Regions from separate parts of the Homo sapiens genome. Here region 2 is linked to region 1. The links come from fine-mapping of genetic effects on gene expression. A gene starts in region 1. The other region holds a variant in brackets. All regions are shown on one strand. Distances are from middle to middle. Region 1 holds the start of RIT1 (Ras like without CAAX 1). Region 2 holds the start of MIR6738 (microRNA 6738).

The links.
Region 2: its variant is fine-mapped to the expression of RIT1 in blood mononuclear cells (TOPMed, PIP above 0.99).

Annotation. Positions count from the first base shown.
Region 1 is chr1:155,905,273-155,914,592 of GRCh38, forward strand. RIT1 (Ras like without CAAX 1) reads right to left here and starts at 6,077. Exons shown (of 6, transcript NM_006912.6): 1 at 5,971-6,077; 2 at 5,384-5,532; 3 at 5,178-5,234. The coding sequence starts at 5,489. It overlaps KHDC4 (KH domain containing 4, pre-mRNA splicing factor), which reads right to left. Exons shown (of 14, transcript NM_014949.4): 14 at 7,773-9,048. The coding sequence ends at 8,849.
Region 2 is chr1:155,943,893-155,957,868 of GRCh38, forward strand. It overlaps ARHGEF2 (Rho/Rac guanine nucleotide exchange factor 2), which reads right to left. Exons shown (of 22, transcript NM_001162383.2): 13 at 13,821-13,976; 14 at 11,010-11,077; 15 at 8,736-8,936; 16 at 8,224-8,343; 17 at 8,027-8,094; 18 at 7,849-7,884; 19 at 7,591-7,641; 20 at 6,937-7,380; 21 at 6,407-6,590; 22 at 2,962-4,123. The coding sequence ends at 4,050. MIR6738 (microRNA 6738) reads right to left here and starts at 7,444; the gene lies at 7,381-7,444. The variant G/T (reference allele first, on the strand shown) is at 10,088.

The sequences.
Region 1 (9,320 bases):
TGTAGCCTTGACTTCCCAGGCTCCAGTGATTCTCCCACCTTGGCCTCCCAAGTAGCTGGAACTACAGGCGTGCTACCACCATGTCTGGCTAATTTTTTTGTATTTTTGGTAGACATAGGATTTTGCAATGTTGTCCAGGCTAGTCTCGAACTCCTGGGTTGAAACAATCCTCCTGCCTTGGCCTCCCAAAGTGCTGGTATTACAGGTGTGGGCCACTGCACTCAGCCGAGACCCCATCTCTTAGGGGAAAAAAAAAATTAGGCCTGAAAAGTAACTTTACCATTTATTAAATTGTTATTATCTACCAGACATTATACTAAGTAACTTATATATATTAATTCTTCAATAATCACAATAATCCAATGAAGTAGGCATTATTACCTCCATTTTACAGCTAAAGAAAATTCAACTTGAAAATATTAATGTCTTCTCTAAATTAGTTAATTAGTGACAGAATGAGGATTAAAATCCAAGATTGCTGAACTGAAAAGCATTATTAACCATGTGTTATACTTCCTCCTCAATACTACAAAAAAGGAAAAAAATATATAATTCACTATTTTTTTTTTTTTTGAGACAGGCTCTCACTCTATCACCCAGACTGGAGTGCAGTGGCATGATCTCGGCTCACCACAACTTCTGCCTCCCAGGCTCAAGGGATTCTCCTGCCTCAGCCTCCTGAGTAGCTGGGATTACAGGCACATGCCACTATTGCCCGGCTAATTTTTGTATTTTTAGTATAGACAGGGTTTCACCATGTTGGCCAGGCTGGTCTTGAACGCCTGACCTCAAATGATCCACCTGCCTCAGCCTCCCAAAGTGTTGGGATTACAGGCGTGAGCCACTGCACCCGGTCTAACTGACTATTTTCTAAATAATCCACAGTTTCGTAATTTCTCTTTTCTGAAAGCAAATTTCTTTATGCATATTACTATAGTAACCTTGGAAAATATAGAAAACTAAAAAGAAAAAAAAAGCCACGCAATATTTCATTCACTTAACAACTGCTGCTTACATCTCAATGTATTTCCTTTTAACATTTTTTCTTGAATTCCTGCTTCTGTCTCTTCCTCAAAGATGAAGAGCTCATTAAATCAATGCTTCTCAATTATTCATTAGGATTAGTGAGTTGTGAAATCTACTTAATGGGCCGGGACCAGCATTAAAATAAACAAGCAGAAACCTAAATAAAAATAGAAAATACCAGGCCAGGCACAGTGGTTCATGCCTGTAATCCCAGCACTTTGGGAGGCTGAGGCGGGTGGATCACCTGAGGTCAGGAGTTCAAGACCAGCCTGGCTAATGTGGTGAAACCCCATCTCTACTAAAAATACAAAAATTATCTGGATGTGGTCACAGGCGCCTGTAATCCCAGCTACTTGGGAGGCTGAGGCAGGAGAATCGCTTGAACTGGGAGGTGGAGGTTGCAGTGAGCCAAGATTGTGCCACTGGACTCTAGCCTGGGCAACAGGAGTGAAATTCTCCGTCTCAAAAAAAAAAAAAAAAAAAAAAGAAAAAAAGAAAAAAAAAGAAAGAAAATACCAGAGTGGGTGAGGTACAGTGGCTCTCACGCCTGTAATCTCAGTGCTTTGGGAGGTCCAGGTGGGAGGATCACTTGCGCTCAGGAGTTTGAGACCAGCCTGGGCAATAGAGCGAGACCTCATCTCTACTAAAAATCCAAAAATATTAGCTGGGCTTAGTGGCCTACGCCTGCAGTCCCAGGTATTTGGTAGGGTGAGGCGGGAGGATCACCTGAACCCAGGAGGTCCAGGCTGCAGTGAGCCAAGATCACAACACTGCACTCCAGCATGGGCAACAGAGTGAGACCCTGTCTCAAAAAAAAAGAAAAGAAAAGAAAATATCAGAGTGCACCAGATGTAGTGAGGTAAAGTTTCATAATATTTTAGCTACACATACACATGCGCTTGTGTATATAATTTATATATACATATGCACACATTCATATGCTTTTTTTTTTTTTTTTTGAGGCAAAGTCTCACTCTGTCGCTCAGGGCGGAGTGCAGTGGTGCAATCTCGGCTCACTGCAACCTCTGCCTTCTGGGTTCAAGGAATTCTCCCACCTCAGCTTCCTGAGTAGCTGGGATTACAGGCATGCAGCAGTAACACGCCCAGCTAATTTTTGTATTTTCAGTAGAGATGGGGTTTTACCATGTTGGCCAGGCTGGTCTTGAACTCCTGACCTCAGGTGCCTTGGCCTCCTAAAGTGCTTCGATTACAGGATTGCAGGCTCAGGATTACAGGCGTAAGCCTCCGCACCCGGCCTTGTATGCTTTTATATCTCTACCAGTTACAATGTAAAGTTTTTCTGAGTTTACAGCCAGAGCTTGAAATCAAATGCACTAAATTAGAAACTCAAGAACAGAAACCTCATCTTTTTGATCACCACTGTACCCTGAGGGTAAGCAGTGCTTGGCACATAATAGAAACTCAGAAGACATAAGTATTTGCTGTTGAATCAGATAATATTGCCAGGAGAGTAGTTAACTGGAGGAAAATTGATTAAAACAGATAACTTGGCCGGATGCGGTGGCTCACGCCTGTAATCCCAGCACTTTGGGAGGCCGAGGCGGACGGATCACAAGGTCAGGAGATCGAGACCATCCTGGCTAACACGGTGAAACCCCGTCTCTACTAAAAATACAAAAAATTAGCCAGGCGAGGTGGCGGGTGCCTGTAGTCCCAGCTACGCTGGAGCCTGAGGCAGGAGAATGGCATGAACCCCGGGGGGGCGGAGCCTGCAGTGAGCCGAGATCATGCCACTGCACTCTAGCCTGGGCGACAGTGAGACTCCATCTAAAAAAAAAAAACAAAAAAAAAAATACAGATAACTCTTACAGGAGACGAGTATTTGAGTTTTACTTTAAAGAAAGGGAAAGACGCGGCCGGGCACGGTGGCTCACGCCTGTAATCCCAGCACTTTGGGAGGCCAAGGCAGACAGATCACGAGGTCAGGAGATCGAGACCATCCTGGCTAACACAGTGAAACCCTGTCTCTACTAAAGGTACAAAAAATTAGCCGGGCGTGGTGATGGGCCCCTGTAGTCCCAGCTACTCAGGAGGCTGAGGCAGGAGAATGGCGTGAACCCGGGAGGCGGAGCTTGCAGTGAGCCAAGACGGCGCCACTGCACTCCAGCCTGGATGACAGAGTCAGACTCTGTCTCAAAAAAAAAGAAAGGAAAAGATGCTTTTGGAGTTCTCAAGTACATATGCGTAAGCCCTAAATTCATTTTATTCCTAGAACTCCCGCCATAATTTGAATCTCTGAACAATTTTTTTTTTTTTTTTTGAGACAAAAGCTTGCTCTTATCCCCCAGGCTGGAGTGTGATGGCACTATCTCGGCTCACTGCAACCTCCGCCTCCCAGGTTCAAGCAATTCTCCTGCCTCAGCCCCCGCAGTAGCTGGGATTACAGGCACCCAGCACCACGCCCGGCTAGTTTTGGTATTTTTAGTAGAGATGGGGTTTCACCATGTTGGCCAGGCTGGTCTCGAACTCCTGACCTCAGGTGCTCCACCCGCCTCGACCTCTCAAAGTGCTGGGATTACAGGCATGAGCCACCGCGCCTGGCCTGAATCTCTGAACAGTGTTCTAAATTTGATATAGTACATGAAAAAGTCAAGACTTTTTCTATTTTTCCCATCCCTGGAATCATGTGCTCTATGAAATGACCATATCAAAGCTGGGCCACCACAAAACATTATTGGCTTTGCGGGAAACAGAGCAGCAGAGGCCTGACCCAATGGAAATCCTTCCTAGAGAACTAGGATCATGGCAAAGAGTGTCACATACTGAAAATAATAAGGCCCGGCGCAGTGGTCACGCCTGTAATCCCAGCACTTTGGGAGTCCGAGGTGGGCAGATCACGAGGTCAGGAGATTGAGACCATCCTGGCTAACACGGTGAAATCCCATCTCTACTAAAAATACAAAAAAAAATTAGCCGGGCTTGGTGGCGGGCGCCTGTAGTCCCAGATACTCGGGAGGCTGAGGCAGGAGAATGGCATGAACCTGGGAGGTGGAGCTTGTAGTGAGCCGAGATTGTGCCACCGCACTCCAGCCCGGGCAACAGGGTGAGACACCGTCTCCAAAAAAAAAAACAAAAAAAGAAAATAACAGTACAGCTGACTTTCTGTGCCCTCTCCCATTCCCACATCCATTTTTCTTTCATATTAGGATATAAACCCTTAGAATCAAACCTGCTTCCTTATGGTTTAGGAATGACAGTAATGTTCTTAGTCTTTGTAGAGATTAGCAATTAAAAAATAAAAAAGTCAAAGCAAACAAAATGACTTTTTTACTCTATTAGCGTTCTGCAACAAGAGTTAAGGACCATAAAAGACATCGGAGGGCTAGGCACAGTGGCTCACGCCTGTAATCCCAGTACTTTTCGAGGCTGAGGTGGATGGATTACTTGAGGTCAGGAGTTTGAGACCAGCCTGGCCAACATAGTGAAATCCCATCTCTACTAAAAATACAAAAATTAGCCGGGTGTGGTGGCAGATGCCTGTAATCCCAGCTACTCAGGAGGCTGAGGCAGGAGAATTGCTTGAACCCGGGAGGCGGAGGTTACAGTGACCGGAGATCGCACCATTGCCCTCCAGCCTGGGAGACAGTGCGAGACTCCATCTCAAAAAAAAAAAAAAAACAACAGACAGACATGGGAGAAGACATTACTACGTAATGAACTTAAGGTATAAGGAAGTAAACCAAGAGCTCCAAGTGCAAGATGTCCAGGCTTGGCATGTCTGGGTTGTAAGAGTTCAGCAGCCTGGCTCTACTTGTTTCTCTGCTTCCTTTTGTGGAAGTTCAAACCAGCTGACTCACAGTTACAGAGCGAGTCTCAAGTCATACCCTTAGAGAAGTGACAGCAAGAAAAGGCTTCGTTAAGTGGCCTGTATACAACCATAAAAAAATACAACAAAGAGAGTTGTCCCATTAATGTTCAGTAAGAGACAAAGACTAAAGATGGCTTATGACATAAAGTCTGAAAAAAAAAGAAATATTCAGTTGCTTACCAACTGCTGATACCCTTGTTTCTAAATAAATCTGAATTAGACTCCAAAAAAGCCTCAAAATATAAATAGTTAGAAACTACTGATATTCATTAAGATATTTTTATGGGGTATATTTGGAAACATAAGTGATGATCTGGCTTACCAATGGTGGGATCATGATCTTCTGGGAATCGGTGGCTGATGAACTGCATGGTCATGGCTTCAAAAGAAGAAATAAAAGTCAAATCCTCACAAAGGTGACCCACAGAGAGAATTTTAAGTATTAACATTGCAAGATAGCAAGTATCCCATCTGGTCATTTAAGTACTTTTCATCCATGCTTCCTGTCAAATGGAAAATGTTACCTACCACTCTTCCCTACACCACCAGCACCCAGCATCACTAGTTTGTACTCCCGTGAGAGCCCAGCGGGGCTGCTACAGCAGCTACCAACTGGGCGAGTTCCAGAATCCATTGTCCTCTTGGGGCCTTCCTCGGTTGCCCCGAGGAAAAGCCACCTAGAAAAGGAGGAGGAAATGCTTAATCCAGGATGGAGACACCACGGCGACAGCCCTCAAGCCAGTGCCTTACCTTTCCATACATATTCTGGCCTGTCCCTCTTACTCTGGCCTGTCCCTCTTGCTCACCACTGCACCCTTTCGGGTGGCCCTAAGAAACCCCCCCATCTTCACCCTCCCTCCTAGACAGTTCAGTCACATGACACATCACAGGTTTTACTTTTTCCAAAGAGAAAAATAAAAAGATACAAATAAATTTACGTCTCGGCACAGTAGGGACAAGGAGAAAGTTTTGGGAAGAAAGGGATGCGGCCCCTTAGGCCGCAGGGGTTCTCTCACGTCTGCGGTACCCAGAGGTTCCGCCCCCTCCCCATTCTCCTCCGAACCCCCTCCCCACCCCCAGCTGCTGCTCCGCCGCCAGACTCCCCACCCCTCTACCTCACAAGCCGACGCCCTGCTGCTCCTACTGGTCAGTGGGGACTGGAACACCACAGCCGGTCGGGTCACGCACTTCGTCTTCCTTCACTCGCGGAGGCTCCGGCACTGACCTGTGACCCCTCCCGCAACCGAGTAAGATGGCGCCACCGGCGCCCGAGTCGCGGAAGGAGGGGCGGGGCCACTCAGTGACGCCCACAGCCTGCCCCGCCCTCTTCCCGCCCCTCCCAGGTCCCTAAAACCCAGTTCCGGGACCCACCGCTGAAGGTCCTCTGGTCACCTACCCAACCTAGGGTGTATGCACTCACAGACAAGGGTATTTAATCACGAGTAGAAAGTAAATTATTTACACAAAAGGGAAGGGAGTACGTGATAAGAGACATGCAGGGACACTTAAATTAACAACTTACCGAGGGTTGTTTGCTGCTTGTGGGAAAAAAAAAAACCCAAAACTAATTTGACCCAATGTAATGAGAGGAAGGGAGGACAGGGGCACCCCCCAAATCCTCCTAAAACACAGGATTTCAGTCAAGTCTACCGGGGATGACTACTCATAGGAGAAAAATGACTTTCCTAAAGGAGCGGCCACAATGACTTTTGCTATTGAAACCTAAATTCATTCTCAGAAACCAGATGTTCACAACACTCCCTAATCAGAGTTCTGTATGTATTTTAAACACGTATAAGACACACAAAAACTTGTTTTAAATAAATGTACCACACTCTGGCAGGAAAGAGAGCTCTGAGTTAACAGAGGCCTTGAGTTAAATACAGAACTGAAGCGCAGCCACTATAACCATATTCCCCTCTATTTACGTAGCACAGGTGCTAGAAGAAACTGACACGAAAATTGTTCTCATGCAGCTCTGCCTACCACTGTTCTTTTTAAATGTCTTTCTGGGCCGGGCGGGCGCGGTGGCTCACACCTGTAATCCCAGCACTCTGGGAGGCCGAGGCAGGTGAGTCATGAGGTCAAGAAATAAGAGACCATCCTGGCCAACATGTAAAACCGTCTCTACTAAAAATACAAAAGAATTAGCTGGGTGTGGTGGCATGCGCCTATAAGTCCCAGCTACTCGGGAGGCTGAGGCAGGAGAATCACTTGAACCTGGGAGGTGGAGGTTGCAGTTAGCTGGCTGAGAGGGTGCCACTGCACTCCAGCCTGGCAACAGAGCAAAACTCCGTCTCAAAATTTAAGTCTTTCTGGCCAGGAGTGCTGGCTCACGCCTGTAATCCCAGGACTTTGGGAGGCTGAAGTGGGCTGATCACTTGAGGATCAGGAGTTCAAGACCAGCCTGGCCAAAATGGTGACTCCCTGTCTCTACTAAAAATATAAAAATTAGTTGGGCATGGTGGTAGGTGCCTATAATCCCAGCTACTCAGGAGGCTGAGGCTGGAGAACCACTTGAACCCAGGAGGTTGCGGTGAGCCAGGATTGCACCATTCCACTCCAGCCTGGGTGACAGAGCGAGACTCCATCTCAAAAAAAAATAAAATGTCTTTCCAAGAATAACATATTTCCTTTAAAACCCGCTTCATTCATGAAGTCCTTTTAATACGCTGTTAAATAAAGGAGGGCTAAAATATGAAAATGGAAAATATCCAGCATAATAATCCTTAACCTTTTCATTTGAACTTTAAGGGTACATTTTGCAGTTACATAACTCTGGGAACTATATGCAAACCTTGGGGTCTGTATATGTATTTTTCTGGTAATGTTATAGTTGCATTGTGCTATGAGTAAAAAAGTTTATGAATTTCAGTGTATGGATGGGTTGTGGAAGAAAACAGAGAAACCACAAGCAGAATATTTATAGATTTATTTATAATGAAATTATGGTCTAAATATTTACAACATATAGGAAACCAGAGGATAAGTTTATACAAAGCCAGCCTGCAAAGTATTCAAATGTGCAAAAATGACAGTTCAATATCTCAAACTATTCCTGGTTCAGCAGACTAGCTCCTTCACTTTCACACATCAATATTTGATACAAAAAGTTATTTTGGCAAAATCTGTAATGCCAAGAAAAAGGACAATTTGCAATTTCAGTCATTAAGTCCAAAATCCTATAGCCAGCAGTCAGATCTCTCTGTTTTAGCTGCAACCAGTTCTGGGAGAGAGAGACCACTGTATTTCATTTCTGTGATGAGTTCTGACCAGTTTTAGTCAAGAAGTTTTCTCTGACCCAGCTGAAGACAGGATCTTAGAAGGGCAATAAAAACAGTAATGGCTATGAGACCAATGTGCCTGAAGGTGCCAGCTTTGGATCACCCCAATTAAAAAACACAATGAAAAAATAATTTCATTTTCCTATCCAGGATCCAGCTATATCCAACAGTTTTAAATGAGACAGCATTTTCCAAAACAGAAATAATCCAAAACAAAACAGGGATGCAGATCTGTCAGAATTAAATACTGAAAAGGACGGTCTTAAAATCATTTCCCCACTAATAAATAGTAAGGCTCTGTTTGTAACCAGTTATATATCAAAATTGACCAAACAGTAGTAAAATACAAATAAAACTTTCTTTATGTCAGAACTGGGGCTATTCACCTGGAAAAGGCTGACCAGGTCAAATGTGTATGGGAACGACCCTGTTAGGATGCTTTGTTGGACAAGCACATTTCACCAACTGTTAAAAAGCTTCTGAGATAAATTTGTGATTCTAATTAAATTTTAACAGATTCTATGCCACTGCAGAAATAAGGATTTTTGTGGTTGTTAAGGAACCCCTTTAAGAAAGGGGGGCACTGAATCTCTAACTTCTGCAAAGGTCCAGATGGTTCCCAGCACAGGCCCCAGAGTCTTGTTAAATCAAATGCATGCATTATTGCTAAGAAGAGTCACTGAGGGTCAAAACTCTGTTCCACTGTTTCCTAGGGAGCCATCCAGAATGGCATCTGTTGTTTAGCTCGTGGTTGTGATGAAGGATATTGGTATCCCAAACTCCAGCCCTGTGGAAAACTACTTGCATTTTTATGACCTCCATGTTCCTCCTCTTCATCAGATGAATCTGCAGCATAAGCCACCAAGCCAAATCCCTTCTCTGTAGTTTTCATCTTCTTGGCTGGATAATCTAGAATAGAGAAAAAACAACCCCAACCCCATCCCCGCCAAGGGAAAAAAAAAAATACCATAAATTCGTTAATTAAAAAAAAGATGTTAATTTTAAGTGGTTAGTTGGACACCATTTTGAGGTCACAGGGTCAATGGTCACCCAAAAACGTTGAAGATCACACGAAAAACAGCACCAGCATCAGCAAATGTGAATCCACCAGAACCATGTAAGAAAACAGAGAAAGAAAAAAGAAACACAAAAAAAGAAAAAAAAAGAAAAAAAGGAAAGTT
Region 2 (13,976 bases), 41 kb after region 1:
GCAACCTCCGCTTCCCGGGTTCAAGCGATTCTCCTGCCTCAGCCTCCCGAGTAGCTGGGACTACAGGCTCCCGCTACCATGCCTGGCCAATTTTTTGTAATTTTTAATAGAGACAGAGTTTCACCATATTGGCCAGGCTGGTCTCAAACTCCTGACCTCTAGTGATCTGCCCACCTCGGCCTCCCAAAGTGCTGGAGTTACAGGCGTGAGCCACCGCACCCGGTCGAGCTATTATTCTTACACCCTGTGTAAAATGGAGACAGAGAGATGGGAGGAAATAAGCGTGCAGCTGGGAGATGGGGATGGGGAACCATGTCTCAGCTGGAATGGTTGTATATGCTCTGAAGTGGGGTATAATGAAAGTCTCACATAAAGAACTCAGAGGTTGGCCCCTAAGCCCCTCTTGAAGGTGTGTTCTCCAGGACAGGGGTTCCTCTTTGGTTCCTGTATTGAGATGCATCAATGATAAAGGTTAGCCATCAGAAGGATTTTCTAGGAGGCAGCCCCTAGAAAGGAGGGAGGCAGAGGGAAGATGAGGTAGAGCTCCCACTTCCACTGCCCCCCCACCGCCCCCCGCCCCAAGCTCTCTGGCATGACTTGTAACCTATGAGGACGCAGGCTGCTCAGGCTCCTGGGGCAGCAGCTGGGAGCAGTGCCGCCTTATTAAGTGCAGAGCGCCCTGTGAAGGGGGAGGCCACAGTGCCTCCAGGTGCCCCCTGTCCCAGTTCCTTTAATTGCTGGGCAGAGGAGGCTCCAAAGAGGCACCCAATTCACAACAGATTAAGCAATGTGAAAGGAACTTAATTAGCCTCTTGTTTAATTTCCTCTTTTTGATGATGTTTAAACTAGTTCCAAAACTCCACGTCTATTCCTAGCCCATGCAGGCAATGGAAAATCCCTCACCACCTAAGCACCCATCTTCCCACCCCAGCAGCTCCCTCTGATGGCTTTGCTGGGCTCCGGATATTGGCTCCTCTGGGGGCATCTCTGCTTTATGGGCCCCAGAGGTAAATATTGACAAAGTGTACACAGGTCCAAGTTAGAGATGAACTGCATGCACAAAGACCTACTCTTGTGGGGGAGTGGAACGAGGAGGGTGCAGTGGAGGATGGAGAAGGGAGGGCTGGGCAGAGCAGGCGGCCTGGAGCTCCCCTTGGAACGGAGGGAAGGCAATGTTTTGGTGAGAACCTGGGCCCTGGCTCCCTGGAACACCAAGCCAAATGGCTTTGAAACTTCAGCAGGAGGGACAGAGGTTAAGACTGTGGGTTCCCAAAAGTGGGTTAGGGAGGGGACAGGGGACACAACGGTGAAAGATGTGAGGAAGAGGCCTAGCTCTCAGGAGTAGACACATCAGACAAATGCTTGTGCCCCATGTTCTGGGGCTGAAGGTGTGTGTGTGTGTGTGTGTGTGTGTGTGTGTGTGTGTGTGTGGAGGGGGTTGGTACGGGGTGGCAGAAGGGACAGCACTGCTTCAAAGAAAGCAGCGGGGGACTTCACACCCACTCTGGGCTGTGTCTCCAGGTTTCCATGTTCTCTGCTGACCAGCATCTCTCATTGGATCTGTGGGGCATTCTGGGAGAGCCTGCATTCCCCTTTCTTGGTGGTCTCTGCATGCTGTCTAATATCCTCACCCTACCCCCACCTACCTTCCTTCCCCACCTAAAGGTGCCACCCTCACAGCTCTGGGTCGGAGATACTTCCAGCTGACCTGGAAGACAGCTGCTGAGCCCTGTGTCCCTGTGTGTGAAATGTGAAGCCCTGGTGTTTTTTTTTTTTTCTTTTCTCCAGGCAGGGTCTTGCTCTGTCACCCAGGCTGGAGTGCTGGAGTGCAGTGGCACAATCTCGGCTCACTGCAACCTCTGCCTCCCGGGTTCAAGCAATTCTCCCACCTCAGCCTCCCAGGTAGCTGGGAATACAGGTGCCCGCCATCACGCCCGGCTAATTTTTGTATTTTTAGTAGAGATGGGGTTTCACCATGTTGGCCAGGCTGGTCTCGAACTCCTGGCCTCAAGTGATCCACCCAACTCAGCTTCCCAAAGTGCTGGGATTATAGGCGTGAGCCACTGCACCCAGCCAGCCCTGGTATTTTTAGGCAGAGTAGCCAAGAGAGAAAAGTGGTGGACTGGAACTAAGAAGGCCGGCCCCCTCCTGGCCTGGCAAGCTTCGTGCACCTAGGTTTCCCGGCCCATAAAATGAGAACAATTCCCCATTCTCAGGATCCCCGTAATGGCTGAGAAAGCACCTTGTAAAGGCTTGATGCTGGTGGATGAGAGTTACAGAAGGGGAGGGTGCTGGCTGCTCCCCCAGCCTGCTCCCCATGTGACTTCAATTCCTCTTTCTAGCTGAGGGCCTGAGCCCCCTTCTCCTGATCTGACCCCACAGGCTCCAACAGGGATGTGAATTCATACCAGCATTTATACAACCCTAGACTCTCACCTCCTCCCCTCCCCCACAGCCCCAAAGTAAGTACCAACTGGGAACAGGAAGTAAAACCAACTAAAACCAAGAACTGAAACCAGCTCATCTCTCACTGCCTCTCAAAGAGGGACAGTAAATGAGCAGCTCCTGTGACGGGTAACCCCAGGGCCCGACATCATGGAGATCAACAAGGGCCTAGTGGGGGATGGATCTGACAATGAATGACACTGGGGATGGGGGCAATAGGTGGAGGTGATTGCTGAGCATGGCATACAAATACGATGAACACACTTTTCCTGATACCGGAATTCCCAACATTGGAACCTGTGTGCCCCTTTGTTTTTATCCTTGTATTTGTGAATTAAAAAAACAAAAAAAAGATTTGCAGTGGTTACTTTTGTTAGTGCCCCCTCTCTTCAGTGAGGCAGAGGCTGTCCTTGCGGTGAGAGGAAAAGGCCCCTTTCAGAGGAACTTAGGTCACTGCCCGGCTCTCTACTACCATCCTCCTCAGAATTGGCAGACATTATGGAAGACAGTACCTTATGGAGTTCCAGGTTTTTAATTTTCCCTGAATTTTTTTTTTAAACAACAAAATTGGCAAGAAGAAAATTCTTCGACATTTGGGGGCTGGTCGACATTTGGGGGCAAGGGTTCCACTGAAAAATCCCCCAAATTCACGCTGAGGTTTCAGGTCATGGTTGCTGAGGTGGAAGATGAGGTCAGGGCTCTTGGAGATTTTCCAACCCACCCTAGAACTTGTTTCTAAATGGCTGGGGAAGAGGTCAGTATAGGTCCCCCCGTTACTGCAGATGAAGGCAGAAGTCATTCTCTCCCCCACCCCTCAACTTCTTCAGAGATGTGGAGATAGGAGGCTTCGATCTCTAATTGCCTACGATCTCTTAAAAATATAAAACACGTGCAGTTGACTTTGGTACAAAAAAGAAAACAAAAGAACAACAAAACATTCTGGTCCCTGTGGGTTTTTTCCCTCACCCCCAACAAACCATTATGGCCACCCCAACCTTTATTCCATCAACTCCAGGAAGCCAGGTTATCTCCCAGGGCTTCCATGAAGGACGGAGAAAGGGAGAACAGCAGTAAGAGGTTGAGGGGAGAGGAGAAAGGGACATGGCCCTGCCCACAGCCCTCCTTTATTTAAAGGGCAGTAGGGTGCTGTGGCTGCAGCCTCTCCTCCAAGACGGATGTTGCAGGGGAGGGCCGTTAGGGCAAGAACCCAGCAGCTGCGTGGATGAGCCTGAATATACCCCAGTAGTGTTCAAGGACAAGGCCCTCTGATCCCTATGGCTTGGTTCCCATGTCCCTGGTCCTTTAAATCTCCCCTCTCCCCCCATAACTAATAAACAATAAATAAATAAATTTTCCTAAAGTTGCGGGAAGAAGGCATGAACCACTGGCATCTGTGGTGTAGCTTTCGGATGTCCCAGGGGGTGTTGTGGCCTAATTCCCCTAGCTTCTTAAATGGCCCCAGGTATCCAAGGATCCCAAGAGCTGGCAAGGACAATTTGCAGTTCTTTCAAATGTTCCCTCATCATTGGCAAATTGGAGTCCCCAAGGTTAGCCCCCTCAGTAATGTTCTTCAGTGGGGCACGGGGCAGGGGGGAGGGGCCCCCTTAGCTCTCGGAGGCTACAGCCTCCCCGTCGCGGCTCTCCGTCTCCTCCGGGATGTCCTGCATTCTGGTAAAGTCTGAAGGGGGACAGGACAAAGCCAGTGAGTTAGCAGAGACTCCCATGAGGAACTGTACCCCTAGACTAATGCCTCCCCATCTGCAGGCTCAGGGGGCTCTGGGGCTGTGAAGGGATGACAGGGTTCTGTAAATTCTTGGGTGAGAGGAAAACCTTTGGCAACAAAGTAAGCAAGGTATCCATACCTAGGTACCGGATACACTTTTACAGTATCCAAAGATACAATTTGATTAGGAAAATACAAAATACTTTAAGGTTAAAGCTTTTGGTAATTTTTTATTTCATGAACCAACTGTAAAAACTTGAAGTTCTTTGAAACTTTTTTTACTTTAAAAACTGGCCCCATGGCTCGTGCTTATAATCCTAACACTTTGGGAGGCTAAGGTGGGAGAATCACTTAAGGCCAGGAGTTGGAGACCAGCCTGGCCAACATGGTGAAACCCCATCTCTACTAAAAATGCCAAAAATTAGCTATATGTGGTGGCATGCGCCTGTAATCCCAGCTACTCGGGAGGCTGAGGAACAAGAATTGCTTGAACTTGGGAGGTGGAAGTTGCAGTGAGCTGAGATTGTGCCACTACACTCCAGCCTGGGTGACAGAGCAAAACTGTCTCAAAAAAAACAAAACAAAACAAAACAAAAAACTATACCTTCCCAGGCACAGTGGTATGTACCTGTAGCCCCAGCTACTTGGGAGGATCACTTAAGCCCAGGAGTTTGAGTCCAGCCTCGGCAACAGCACAAGACCCTCTCTCTAACATAAAAAATTTTAGAGTGAGATCCTCTGTCTGGGTCTCCGGGTCTCTTTCTGTCGCCCAGGCTGGAGCAATCACGGAGTACTGTCAACTCAACCTGCTGGGCTCAAGTGATCCTCTCACCTCACTCTCACTCTCCGTAGCTAGGACTACAGGCTCACTCCACCACACCTGGCTAATTAAAAAAATTTTGGGGGACCAGGCACGGTGGCTCACACCTGTAATCCCAGCACTTTGGGAGGCCAATGTGGGTGAATCACCTGAGGCCAGGAGTTCGAGACCAGCCTGGCCAACATGGTGAAACCCCATCTCTACTAAAAAATACAAAAAAAATTAGCCAGGTGTGGTAGTGCATGCCTGTAAATCCCAGCTACTCGAGAGGCTGAGGCAGGAGAATCACTTGAACTCAGGAGGTGGAGGTTGCAGTGAGCTGAGATTGTGCCACTGCACTCCAGCCTGGGTGACAGAGTGAGACTCCATCTTAAATAAATAAATAAATAAAATAAAATAAAATAAAATAAAATAAAATAGACCGGGTGCAGTGGCTCACATCTGTAATCCCAGCACTTTGGGAGGCCAAGGCAGGCGGATCATGAGGTCAAGAGATTGAGACCAGACTGGGCAACATGGTGAAACCCTATCTCTTCTAAAAATACAAAAATTAGCTGGGCGTGGAGGCATGTGCCTGTAGTCCCAGCTACTCGGGAGTCTGAGGCAGGAGAATCACTTGGACCTGGGAGGCGGAGGTTGCAGTAAGCGGAGATCTCACTACTGTACTCCAGCCTGGCGACAGAGTGAGAATTCCATCTCAAAAAAAAAAAAAATTTAGCCAGGCGTGGTGGCTCATGCCTGTAATCCCGACACTCTGGGAGGCCAAGACAGGTGGATCGCGAGGTCAGCCGTTCAAGACCAACCTGGCCAACATAGTGAAACCCCATTTCTACTAAAAATACAAAAATTAGCTGGGCGTGGCGGTGGGCGCCTGTAATCCTAGCTACTTGGGAGGCTGAGGCAGGAGAATCGCTTGAACCTGGAAGGCAGAGGTTGCAGTGAGCCAAGATCACGCCACTGCACTCCAGCCCAGGCAACAGTGCAAGACTCCATCTCAAAAAATAATAATGAAATAAATTAATTAAATAAAATAAAAAAATAAATAAATGAATTTTTTTTTGTAGAGAAGGTGGGTCTCACTATGTTGCCCAGGCTGGCCTCAAAATTCTGAGCTCAAGCGATCCTCCTGCCTTGGCCTCCCAAAGTGTTAGGATTACAGGCCTGAGCCGCCATGCCTTTTTAAAAAAGAATCTGTTTTTACTTCTAAAGGTTGGGAATCACCAACCAGTTGGAGGAGAGAGGCCCCTCCTGCTTCCTAGACTTCCACCACCCATTCATCATCAGACAAAACAGGAAGTCCCTCCCTAGAGTTACTACAAGCCTCACAGGTCAGTTAGGGCCCATTTGGAAGCCACAGCCCAATGGCCTGTACCCAGGCTGCACTCTACCTCTGGTCCATGTCTCCGCCAGGGTCTCACCTCGTGGACTGTGGGGCGGAGACAGACGGCTGCTACCTTCCTCCTCGCTGCCAGTGTCAGGGTCACTGCTGTCTTGCAGCCGCTCTTCGGGGCTCCCCAGTTCCTGCCTCTCTCGGTCCTCAAAGTTTCGATGGACAGAGCGAGTAGTGACAGGTAGATCCAGGCGGTCAGTGCCTCGGCTGGGCTGTGGACAGTGGGCAGGAAGAACAGCAGGTCAGGGACTGAGTAGTGTGAAGATTGGAGGTTCTGCTTGGCTGAAGGCAGCAGCTCTCCCCCCTGGGGCTCACCCATGAGTCCCCTTCAGGAGATCCACCACCAACTGGCCTCTTTCAGCACCACGACCCGAGTTAATTTCCTCCACCCCTGCACCCATCTACATTTCTTTTCAGTTCTCCAACCAGTATCTCAATATCCTTCAAGTCAGTTGACTGATTGCATTTGGGCTCAAATCCCCAATGGCCCAATTTCTTTCGGGCTCCATGGACCCTTATGTCCACCCCAGGTCCATTCACCACTGCAGGCCACCTTACCTGTGGGGGGTTGAAACTCAAGTACAGGGCATCGCCTGCGGGGAGGCTGCGCCGCCGAGGATCCACAGGTCTGCGGGCCCAGGGGGCCTCAGCTGGGAGTGGCTCGGTCTGGCCCAGGGCGGCCAGCTGCCTTCGAGCCTCTTCGGCCTCACGCTCCAGCAGTGCCCGGGCCTGCTCACTCTCCCGGAGCCGGGCCTCCAGGCTGCCAGCTTCGGTTGCCCGTTCTTCACCTAGCCGCCGGCAGCGCCGTAGCTCCTCCTGCAGCAGCGCATGTTGCCGCTGCAGTAATGCCAGTTCCGTGGCCTGCTTTTCAGGGGCCACAGGGGCAGCCCCAGCCCTGCCAGCCTCCCCATCCCGAGAGTTGGCTCGGCACAGCTTCTCCCGCCGCTCAGGGCCCTCAGGGAACCGGGCTTCCATCAGAGTGTCCTGCTGGGCCACAGCTGCCTGGGAGTAGAATGCAGGCAGAAGGGTTTATCAGAACCCCTGTGCTCTTCTACCCCTCGCCTTCACCCTCCAAGGCCCAGATCATCGCTCCTGGAGAGCTTGGATTGGGAGGGTATTTAGAAAGGCCTGTTGGGATGACCATGCCCCACCTAAACAGGCATCTCTAGCCTGGCTCCTCCCCTTCCCCATTCAAGCCCTTGTCCTACTGACCTGTAGGCCATGTAGAAGTCCATAGAGATTGACCAATCGCTGTAACGCCTCCTGAGGACAGACAGGGTGGGAACAGGGCCCCAGCTTTAGGATGGGAGAACTGCCCAAAAGTTGAACAAGGGTGGGTGTGGGGACAGTAGGATCCGGAGACATACTTGAATGTAGACGCTTTCCCCACCCCACTCCAAACTGGGCTCTAACTACTCAGACTAAGAACATCCTCCCTTCAGTCTCCTATACCATCAATTCCCATCTCACCTCTTGCGGTGATCTCAGCTGATTTCCATTTCGATCCTGCAGAAATGGGCAAGAATGGGGAGTCAGCAGGCACACAAATCCTGGGTGCCTGCCCCTGACAGCTTTGTGTTGAGGATCCAGAGGCTGGCTGTCCCTCTCCCACCCTCTTGCCAAGTCCCAGAACCTCTTGAGGACCTACCCTCTGGCTAGAGTCTGAGTCAGCTCTGCAGAGTTCAATGGAGCCATTGAAGGTTCTGGCCTCACCATCTGTTGAGAAGGAGAAAAGGATGGCTGAGCTCACTTCCCTGGGGCCCTGATACCACTTGATCCCTGGTACCACTCTACTAACTTTGGCCCCTCCCACCTACTACCTTGGTCCCCTGCCCTGGTACTCACTGGCAGTGACCCCAGGACTCGTGTTACCACCGCTGTCTGGTTCCAAGGGCAGGGCTGGCTCTCGGGGTGTCAAGAGCAGTTCCACTCCTGGCCCCACCAGCAGGTCTTTCAGACCCTCCACTGTGGGGAAAGAGGAAGAGGTGAGAACAGGAATGACACAGGACCCTGAGGGGAATGCCATTCACCCCCACATGTGGGACACTTGGGCATCTGGGGGAATGCCCCCTGCACTGGCAGTGGGGTTTCACTCACACAACCACTGATGAGGTAAAGGGCAGTAAATGCCTACGAGGCAGCAGAGTCCATGCAGCATGGACGATATGGAGCAGCAGCAAGGACCACACCTCCTCCCCTGCCTTTCCCAGGAACTGGCCCAGAAGAGGCACTCAGGGCCGTTTATGGTTTATAGGGTTGGCATCCCACTTGTCTGTGTTTGTCCATGTCTAGTCACATGTCCACATTCTGTGACGGTGAGTGCTTGAGCCTGGACTCTTCCCTGGGAGCTCCCTCACCCTCACGGATGGCATCCTGCAGCAGCCGCTCGCCACGAGGGGACTCAAGGGACTCAGAGCGGAAAAGGCCCCTGGGCAGGGTGGGCAGGGCCATCCCACTGCCACCATCCTCTTCGGCCTGGAAATGGGTCATCTCAGCAAACAGCCCGACCTTCTCTCGCAGCAGCTCCACCAGTGCCCGGTCCTTCTGCTGCAACTCCACTGCAGATAAGGAACAAGTGAGGACATGAGAGGACGTAGGGGTATGCAAGAGCGCCAGTAGAGGACAGCCCTAGGGGAGAGGGGTAGGGTGGGGCAGTGTGGCAGACTTAATTTTGTTATTTTGGCATTTATAAAAAAGAAAAAGCTTTCTGTTGGTCAGGTGTAGTGGCTCACACCTGTAATCCCAGCACTTTGGGAGGCCAAGGCAGGTGGATCGCTTGAGGCCAGGAGTTCAAGACCAGCCTGGCTAACATGGCAAAACCCTGTCTCTACTTAAAATACAAAAATTAGCCAGGTGTGGTGGCACGCGCCTGTAGTCCCAGCTACTCAGGAGGCTGAGGCACAAGAATCGCTTGAACCCAGGAGGCAGAGGTTGCAGTGAGGCCGAGATCACACCACTGCACTCCAGCCTGGGCGACACAGCAAGACTCTGTCTCAAAAAAAAAAAAAAAAGATTTGTGGAAGGGGTTGCAGGTTGTCCAACAGTGTTCATTCTTTCCATCTTCCTTTAATGAGAAAATGCATAGAAGTTTCATCTGGGCACACATGGCTGCCCAGTTAACAACTATGTTTTCCAGCCTGACTTGCACGTGACTATATTGCTACATGACTACATTCTGGCCAATGGATATGAGCATCTTCCAGATCTGCTCTTAAAAGAAATGGGTATAGGCTGGGCATGGCAGGTGGATCACTTGAGGCCAGGAGTTCGAGACCAGCCTGGCCAACATGGTGAAACCCTATCTCTACTAAAAATACAAAAATTAGCCAGGAGTGGTGGTGGATGCCTGTAATCCCAGCTCCTTGGGAGGCTGAGGCAGGAGAATCACTTGAACGTGGGAGATGGAGGTTGCAGTGAGTCGAGATCACGCCACGCCACTGCACTCCACCCTGGGCGACAGAGCAAGACCCTGTCTCAAAAAAAAAAAAAAAAAAAAGAAAGAAAGAAAAAGAAAAAAGGGTATAAACTCTATTCCTTTACTCCTCCTTGCTAGGTGTGATACAGGTGTGACAGTGGGAGCTGGAGTAGCCACTTCAGACATGACATAGAGATGAAAACTTCATGTTAAAGATGGCAGAGCTGCACCACTACTCTGCACTTCCCACTTTGAACTGTTATGTTGACAGCAATAATATTCTACCTTGTTGGG[G/T]TTTTTTTTGTTGTTGTTGTTACCCAGACTGGAGTGCAGTGGTGCAATTATAGTGTATTACAGCCTTGAACTCCTGGGCTCAAACAATCCGCCCACCTCAGCCTCCCGAGTAGCCAGGACTACAGGTGTGTACCATCATGCCTAGCTATTTTTTTTTTTTTAATTTTTTGTAGAGACAGGGTCTTGCTATGTATGTTTTGTTGCCCAGACTGGTCTCGAACTCCTGACCTCAAGAGATCCTCCTGTCTCCCAAATCCTTCTGGGATTAAAGGCGTGAGCCACTGCATCCAGCCAATCTACTTCTTTTTTTTTTTTTTTTTTTGAGATGGAGTCTCCCTCTGTTGCCCAGGCTGGAGTGCAGTGGCGTGATCTCAGCTCACTGCAAGCTCCGCCTCCCAGGTTCATGCCATTCTCCTACCTCACTCTCCTGAGTAGCTGGGACTACAGGCACCCGCCACCACCCCCGACTAATTTTTTTTTTGTATTTTTTAGTAGAGACGGGGTTTCACCGTGTTAGCCAGGATGGTCTCAATCTCCTGACCTCGTGATCCGCCCACCTCGGCCTCCCAAAGTGCTGGGATTACAGGCGTGAGCCACCGCGCCCGGCCAATCTACTTCCTTTTTTAAGGAAGAAGATTTTTGTGGTCTTTTAGTATAGCAGTTAAATCATACCCTAACTAATATAAGGCCTTACAGTGAAAAAGTAAGTTACTCACCCAACCTTGGTCTTCCATATTATTTTTACACACATGGTAGTATACACTTTACATTGTTTTAAACCTTGCTTTTTTCACTTAATATGTTTCAGTTGTGGATCTACACCAGCCCTCATAGAGCCATCTCATCTTTTTAACAGTTGCATAATATTCCATTGTGTGAATGTATTATAAATTACTAAGGAGCTCCTTGTGGGTGGACTTACTCTTAATTCGCCGCAGGTAAGCCTCATCCTCTGTCTCAATCAGGGGGAAGTCCTCCCTGGATGGGCATCTGGAGGGGTAACAGGTCGCATGCCATTGAGAGACAGAAGCTAGGTTATAGACCAGAATCAGCCTTCCCTCCTTCCCAAACATGCCTTATGCTTCCATCTTCTGATAAGACTCCTCAGCCTCACACCCTAGCTTTAATTTAGTCCTGACCTTCTCCCTTTTCTTTCTTTTTTTTTTGAGACGGAGTCTTACTCTGTCACCCAGGCTGGAGTGCAAGGGCGCTATCTCAGCTCACTACAACCTCCTCCTGGGTTCAAGTGATTCACTTGTCTCAGCCTCCTGAGTAGCTAGGATTACAGGCACGCACCACCATGCCTGGCTAATTTTTGTATTTTTAGTAGACATGGGGTTTCGTCACGTTGGCCAGGCTGGTCTCAAACTCCTGACCTCAGGTGATCCTCCGCCTCCCAAAGTGCTGGGATTACAGGCATGAGCCACCGCGCCCGGCCGACCTTCTCCCATTTCTTAGCACTGATTATCTGCGTTTACTGAGATATATCTCTCCAAAGGTCGCTTGGAAAGGCAGCACAGTGCAGAGGGTCAAGTACAGGCTTTGGCATCAAGCAAACAGGATGCAAATCCTGGCTCCACTGTTTACCAGGTGGTAACCTCTCTATTTCCTCATTTGAAAAATGAAGGTAATATCTTCCTCATAGGTTTTTCATTAGGATTAAATGAAATGTTAAAGTGCTTTGAACATAACAGAAGCTCAACAAATCAATTACAATTAATATTATTAATTTCCACAATTATAATTTTTTTTTTGAGAGAGAGTCTTGCACTTTCGCCCAGGCTGGAGTCCAGTGACAGGATCTTGGCTCACTGCAACCTCTGCCTCCCAGGTTCAGGTGATTCTCCTGCCTCAGTCTCCCAAGCAGCTGGGACTACAGGCACGCACCACCATGCCTGGCTAAGTTTTATATTTTTAGTAGAGACAGGGTTTCGCCATGTTGGCCAGGCTGGTCTCGAACTCCAGTGGTCCGCCTGTCTCAGCCTCCCAAAGTGCTGGGATTCCAGGTGTGAGCCACAGCGCCTGGCCACAATTATAAATATTAATACTATTAATAAAGAAGCCACTACAGATCTGTCAACAGGACAGGTTATTTTGAACTGCTTTCTTGGAATAGGCAATTTCATAATTTTTTTTTGGAGATGGAGTCTCACTCTGTCACCTAGGCTGGAGTGCAGTGGCACAATCCTGACTCACTGCAACCTCCACCCCCGGGTTCAAGCGATTCTCCTGCCTCAGCTTCCCGCGTAACTGGGATTACAAGCTTATGCCACCACGCCCGGCTAATTTTTGTATTTTTAGTAGAGACGAGGTTTCACCATATTGGCCGGGCTGGTCTTGAACTCCTGACCTCAAGTGATCTACCCGCCTCAGCCTCTCAAAGTGCCGGGATTACAGGCGTGAGCCACTGTGCCTGGCCTGCAATTTCATACTTTTATATGCATTTCTAAAAACCTTTTCAAAATTCCATGGTGCAGAAGTTAAAAAAAAAAAAAGGTTTACAAATTATAAAGTTGAGAACTGATTCCCTGAAAGCTAAAGAAAAATTATAAAAATCTTGGCTGGGCATGGTGGCTAATGCCTGTAATCTCAGCTCTTTTGGAGGCTGAGGTGGGCGGATAAATCTGAGATCAGGAGTTCGAGACCAGCTTGGTCAACATGGCAAAACCCCGTCTCCACTAAAAATACAAAAATTTGGCTGGGTGCAGTGGCTCATGCCTGTAATCCCAGGACTTTGGGAGGCTGAGGCGGGTCGATTACGAGGTCAAGATATCAAGACCATCCTGGCCAACATGGTAAAACCCCGTCTCTACTAAAAATACAAAAATTAGCTGGGCATGGTGGCGTGAGCCTGTAGTCCCAGCTACTCAGGAGGCTGAGGCAGCCCGGCAACAGAGACTCTGTCTCCAAAAAAAAAAAAAAAAAAAAAAAATTTGCCTGGGGTCGTGGTGGGCACCTGTAGTCCCAGCTATTTGGGAGGCTGAGGCAGGAGAATCGCTTGAATCCAGGAGGTGGAGGTTGCAGTGAGCTGAGAGCGAGACTCTGTCTCAAAAAAAATTAAAAAAAAAAAAGAAAGAAAACCTGTAAAAATCTGAATTAGAATTACACTTACACTTCATTCTTTAGGCATAATCTTCCAGAATCCATTTTAAACATCTTACCTGTGCTTTATTTGATGTTTTTTCCCATCACAATTAGACACATAGTTGACTGCCTCAAATCTAATGTGTGTCCAATAGAAGCTAAAGATTTGCTGCTTTGACACACTGATTTCCTTCTTGCTTCTATTGTGTTGAGTCTGTTTATGAGACTTGTTCCTCTCTAGTATCGATGCTTTCATTATCCTCTTTTTCATTCATTTTTAGAAAAATAAATGTAAAATACAATACAATCCAAATAACAGCCCTCTGCCTACAGATGAACATGTGAATGCAGCTGAAATTGTACTGTTGGCTGGCAGGTATGCCACCATGTGACAGCTCAAAGTATTCCCTTGCTTGTCAGCTCATGCTGAATTTGAAAGGGAGTTGAGGTTGGCAATGTATAAAATGTGGCTTTACAGGACATAAGAACATAGGTGACCTTTCCAGTCTTGGGCCATTTTGTCTCTCCCTCAACCTCTTCCCCCACCTCTGAATGCTGGATTCTGTTCCCAGGGAGTTCTATGGTTGGGATCTAATGCTGCAGGTACCCTGAGGTCATAAGCACATGCAGGCGGCAGGCAGACACTCACGTGCGCACGCTCTGCTGAATGACCCGGATCCAGGTGCTCCGGTCATCCCGGGATGCTGTGTGCACCTCGTACATCTCAGGTGGGGCTGCGCTGATCAGAAACATCCCTTTCTCCTGGTTGGCAATGTCTCGTACGATTAGATTCTGCAGCGATACC